Linked DNA regions of Homo sapiens: region 1 is linked to region 2. Evidence: fine-mapped expression QTL. A gene starts in region 2. The other region holds a variant in brackets. All regions are shown on one strand. Distances are from middle to middle.

Region 1 (2,904 bases), 28 kb after region 2:
CCACAAATTTTCTACGCATTTGGAAGTATATATATATTCGTCACACAAATAGGATCATAGAAGTTCACTGCTTACTTTTTTCCCTAAGTAATTGTCCCAGTTGTGCTCCCCAGGAAGCAAACTCTGAGAAGGAATTAAGTGTGCACGGCTGGACATGGTGGCTCACACCTGTAATCCCAGCACTTTGGGAGGCCAAGGCGGGCAGATCACTTAAGCCCAGAAGTTCGAGACCAGCCTGGGCAACATGGCAAAACCCCATCTCCACAAAAAATACAAAAATTGGCCTGGTGCAGTGGCTCACACCTGTAATCCCTGCACTTTGGGAGGCCAAGGCAGGTGGATCACCTGAGGTCAGAAGTTCGAGACCAGCCTGGCCAACATGATGAAACCCCATCTCTACTTAAAAAAATACAAAAATACAAAAATTAGCTGGATGTGGTGGTGGATGCCTGTAATCCCAGCTACTCAGGAGGCTGAGGCAGAATTGGTTGAACCTGGGAGGCAGAGGTTGCAGTGAGCGGAGATTGGACCACTGCACTCCAGCCTGGGCAACAAGAGCGAAATTCCATCTTTAAAAAAAAAAAATAGAAAAATTAGCTGGGTATGGTGGTACATACCTGTAGTCCTAGCTATTCGGGAGGCTGAGGTGGAAGGATTGCTTGAGCCCAGGAGGTCGAGGCTGCAGTGAGCCGTGATCACACCACTGCACTCCAGCGCAGGCAACCAAGTGAGACCCTCTCTCAAACAAAAAAAAGCAATTATGTGTGTGCGATGCATGCTTACCAGGGAGTGCTCCTGGAAGCGCTGCCTGTGGAAGGAAGGACAGAGGGAAAAGTCCAGATGCTCAGACAGCCTGGGAGGTAAATGAACCCTCAGAAAGCCATGGGCCTTTCCATCCCCACTGCTGTCAGTGGACCAGCCTGGGCTGGGCATGTCCTTGGGCATCTTTGAAGGGGATGGCAGTAAAGGGCTGTCTGCTCTCCCTGCTCCCAACTGCCCTGGTGTGCTCCTGGCCAACTTGTCTAACTGCTGAAGACCCAGGCTCTGTCGGTGAGTCTGGCTTCACTAGGCTGTGTTACTTTTAAACCAGTTTTATGTGAGTTTTTATTGTCTGGGGAGAGTCACCATTACCTTTTCTTCTTCCCCTTTTGACAGCAGAACTTCTGCTTCCTCTTTGGCTGCAACCTGAGGTAAAAGGTTATGGGAAGGGAAAGGATGAAGCCCTAGACACATTTCTCTGACAAATATCGAAAACAGAAAGCAGATAAGGATTCCCATCTGGTAAAAGACAAGCACAAAG[A/C]GTCATTCACACACGTGACAATGGGCCCATTCTAGCCACTTCCCCTTTCAATAATCTTTTAGTATTTTCCTTTGTTCAGTACTTGATGAATCAACCACCAAGGTGAGAATTTGGAGCTGTTGCCCCATGGTCTGAAAGGGTCAGATGCCACTGCCCTGCCCAGGAAATGCCCACAGACGGGGCTGCCGTAAAACTCAGCATACTCTATGGACAACCCCACCCCTCACCCCCACTTCCTTCTCTCAAACTTAGGCACCCACTCATTCATAGAAAAGCAAAGATTCGCCTGGAAAACATAGCAAGACTCTGTCTTTACAGAAAATAAAAATAAATTAGCTGGAGCCAGGCGCAGTGGCTCCCACCTGTAATTCCCGCACTTTGGGAGGCCAATGCGGGCAGATCATTTGAGGTCAGGAGTTCAAGACCAGACTGACCAATATGATGAAAACCCGTCTCTACTAAAAATACAAAAATTAGCTGGGCGTGGTGGCGCACACTTGTAATCTCAGCTACTTAGAAGGCAGAGGCATGACAATCACTTGAACCCGGGAGGCAGAGGTTGCAGTGAGCTGAGATCATACCACTGCACTCCAGCCTAGGTGACAGAGAGAGACTCTGTCTCAAATAAATAAATAAATATAAGCTGGGCATGGTGGCATTCACCTGTGGTCCCAGCTACTTGAGAGGTGGAGGCAGGAAGATGACTTGCACCTGGGAGGTTCAGGCTGCAGTGAACTCTGATCATACCACTGCACTGCAGCCTGGGTGACAGAGCAAGATGCTATCTCAGAAAAAAAAAAAAAAAAAGAAAAGAAAGAAAAAAAGAAAGGCAAAGAGAAGAAAACAAAGAAAGAAAAGATTGGGAGAGGTGGACCGGGCTCTATTCTGGGGATGATGACCTTTGTGAAAGCAGAAGTTAGGCCTTAATCCACACTACAGGTAGAGATGCAAAATGGTACAACCATTTTGAAAATTAGTTTGGTAAGTTTCTTATAAAGTTAAATAAACAACACACGAGCCAGCCAGTCCACTCCTAGATAAATGAAAACCTGTATTCACACAATGACTTATACATGAATGTTCACAGCAGCCTTATTCATAATAGCTCAGGCTGGAAACAACCCAAATGTTCATCAGATTAAAAAACTGATATATTCTTACAACAGGCTGGGTGCAGTGGCTCACGCCTGTAATCCCAACACTTTGGGAGGCCAAGGCGGGCGGATCACTTGAGATCAGGAGTTCAAGACCAGCCTGGCCAACATGGCAAAACCCCGTCTCTACTGAAAATTAGCAGGCTTGGTGGTGTGCACCTGTAATCCCAGCTACTCGGGAGGCTGAGGCATGAGAATTGCTTGAACCTGGGAGGCAGAAGCTGCAGTAAGCCAAGATTGTGTCACTGCACTCCACCTATGTAATAGAGTGAGCCTCTGTCTCAATAAATAAATAAATAAAATAAAAATTAAAAATAAAAACATTCTTACAATGGAATACTAACTAATCAGTAATAAAAAGGATGCACTATTGATGTACACAAAACATGGATGAGGCCAGGTGCAGCAGCTCATCCCTATAATCCCAGCACTTTGGGAGGCCGAGGCGGG
Region 2 (2,904 bases):
TCCTTATTCACAACACAGCTTCTTTTAGCCTCCAGAGCCCAGCTGGAGAGCCAGGAGGCTGTGATTAACTACCTTCCCATCCCCTTTAATGAGCCTGTAGTACATGGAACAATCACTCCTGGCCTTTTCTACCTCTGCTTCCGAAGCACCCTTACCAGACCCTCAGAGGATCTGGGGAGAGCTGGCTCTTCATTCCAGTGTTTGCTCACCTCCTGTAAGAACAGTGCCTTCTCCTGGCCACCTAGATTTTCTTTTTCAAGGGGCACCTGCAACCTGTTTTCACAGGTTATCCCTACTAAAACATCATAAAGTGGGCTGGGAAAATACAAGTAAACCCATTTGTAAACACTGTAACTCTACCTCCTCTCATCTAGTAATTCCTTGTTTACTTATTGCTTTCCTCTACAGGACCATAAACTCCTGGAGAGCAGAGACTAGGTGTTTCCTGCCCACCATGGAGAACATATTAGGTGCACAGTATCCATTGGAGTGCAATAGTAAGGACTCATTAATTGTCTCCGTTATCATCATTATGTGGCTTGTCCTGGATCTCCGTCAGTGAGCGACTTGCCAAGTGTGTACACCCATGAACCAGAAGGCAACCCAAGACCAGCCAGAAAAGACGCTTGGCACCCTTTGATGAGTACATTTACCCAGTGACCGCCAACTCTCCCCATTCCCCAAAGTTCTGCAAAGGACGCAGGAAAAGTAAAGTTCAAGGAATAGTGTTCCTAGATCCCTAGCAAAGTTCTAGACCCAAAACACAAAGCCTGGGAGGGGTGGAGGAACGGGGCTTGGGGAACTGTCCCAAGGGCCTCCCCGGCTGATCTCTCCGCACCACCTAGGACTGCCTGAGCGCCCCCTGTGGGTCCACGGAGCCCAGGAGACGCGTTTGGCCCTGTAGACCATCCACATCGCCCGCCCTCCGCTTCTCTCAACTCGCCTCTCGCTTCAGAGTCGGAGGGACAGGGGAAGCGACGCTCAGACACTCCTAGGGCCAGAGGTGGAGGGAGCGAAGGAGACCCTGAAGAAGTGGGAGGGGGTCGGGCCAGGCAGGGGCTGAAGAGAATCGCGCCACAGGCTGGGACGGGAAACGTGGGAAAGTTGGAGTGGGAAGTTTGCGACAGGGAACATAGAAAAGAGCAGAAAGAGGGCAAGATCCCCGCACAGAGGACGCAAACAGAAGCAAGCGGGGGAGCGCGCCTCAAGGGATGCGGGGTACGAGAGAGGGGCCGGGAGCCCGGGGACCCGCGGCGCCTGCCTACCCACCTGAGGCTGCCATGCCGCGGGGCGCCGCTCACATCCCTGGCTCGCTGCGTGCCCGGGGCCGGGACCGGGGCCGGCGGCGTCCTGGCTCGGGCTGGAGGGGCGCCGGGCTCCGCGCGGGACCGGCCGCCGCTCTGGCGCTTCCTCCCTCAGGGCAGCCCGGCCTCGCCACGAGGGCGTGTCCACAGAGTCCGCCCCGCCTGCGGGACTCGGCCCGCGGCACCTGCACCCGCGGCCGTTGGGGAGGGGAAGTGAGAACCCCATGCCGGCCGCCGGCCAGCTCCCCCCACGGCCCCCTGCTCAGGGGCAGCGAGAAGGCGGGGGCTTCGCGCCACGTGCGCCCCACTCCTCGGGAAACCAGCCCTGATCTGCCACCAAAGGGCAGCCCGAGGTGGAGGGGGTGTGGGGAGGAGGCGGAGGGGGAGAGTGTGGGGCTGCCAGGCCTCTGGGAGACAGGGCGGGGGTGTGTGTGTGTGTGAGCACCAGCTGTCCAAGCCACCTCCTCATCGCCTGGGGCTTTGTCCCTAAGCCCCTGCTGCCCCAGCAGGAAAGGGGAGGGGACAGGAAGGGGAAGAGGAGGAGGGCTGGGCACCTGGCCCTGGGTGCTCGGCGTTGCCCTTGAGTGCCCTCCTGTGATCTTTCTGCCGTTCCTTGGATCTGGTCTCCTGATGGCACATGAACATTAATTATAATGTCACATGATAAATGTCTAATAGAGTTTCTCTGCCATTCATTTCCTGTGTTCCTGTCTGCTGGGCGCTGCGTTTAGCACCTTACACACATTATCGCATTGCATCCTCACAGCAACCTTCTGAGGTAGCACCTATCACTGTCTTTACATTGGAGCCAAAGAAACAAGCCAAATACCTTGCTCAGGCTTCCACAGAGAACAAAAGCTCCCGGAGGTTCAGTACCAAGCCAGTCTGCTTCCAGAGCTAGAACTCTTGCTTAACCCTTGCCTTCACCTGCCCTCTTCTTGGACTCCTCCCTTTGCCTGCTGCCGAAATTCAACTGAATAGCACATCCCCTTGGAGTTCTCAACAATCCAGGGGCCAGAAGATGGACCCAGAGAGCAGAGATGAGGCAAGGTTAGGGCTGAAGTCCAGGTGGAAATAAAATGAAATGGATTTAAGAACGGGAATATCAGGATGAGGCCGTGCATTCATTTTCTTCTGTTGCCATAATAAATTACTACAAATTTAGTGGCTTAAAACAACACCAACTTATCATTTTACAGTTCTGTAGCTCAGAAGTGTGACATGAGTCTCCATCGGCTAAAATCAAGGTGGTGGCTGGGCTGGGTTTCTTTCTGCCAAATAGAAGGGAATCAATTTCCTTGGCTCTTTCAGCTTCTAGAAGCCATCCACATTCCTTGGCTCATGGCCTCCTTGTTCTATCTTCAAAGCCAGATGGCCCTGCTTCTGTCATCATATCCCTTTCTCTGACTCTCTTCTGTCTCCCTCTTCCAGTTTTAAGGATCCTAGTGGCCGGGCGCGGTGGCTCACGCCTGTAATCCCAGCACTTTGGGAGGCCGAGGCGGGCGGATCACGAGGTCAGGAGATCGAGACCATCCCAGCTAAAACGGTGAAACCCCGTCGCTACTAAAAATACAAAAAATTAGCCGGGCGTAGTGGCGGG

What was found.
Region 1: its variant is fine-mapped to the expression of PIK3AP1 in whole blood (INTERVAL, PIP 0.98).

What each region holds. Positions count from the first base shown.
Region 1 is chr10:96,746,980-96,749,883 of GRCh38, forward strand. No RefSeq gene overlaps it. Among named protein-coding and RNA genes, the nearest start is that of PIK3AP1, 28 kb to the left of the region's middle. The variant A/C (reference allele first, on the strand shown) is at 1,301.
Region 2 is chr10:96,719,113-96,722,016 of GRCh38, forward strand. PIK3AP1 (phosphoinositide-3-kinase adaptor protein 1) reads right to left here and starts at 1,402. Exons shown (of 17, transcript NM_152309.3): 1 at 1,270-1,402. The coding sequence starts at 1,282. RefSeq lists enhancers at 924-1,033, 1,884-1,993 and silencers at 1,164-1,413, 1,464-1,763.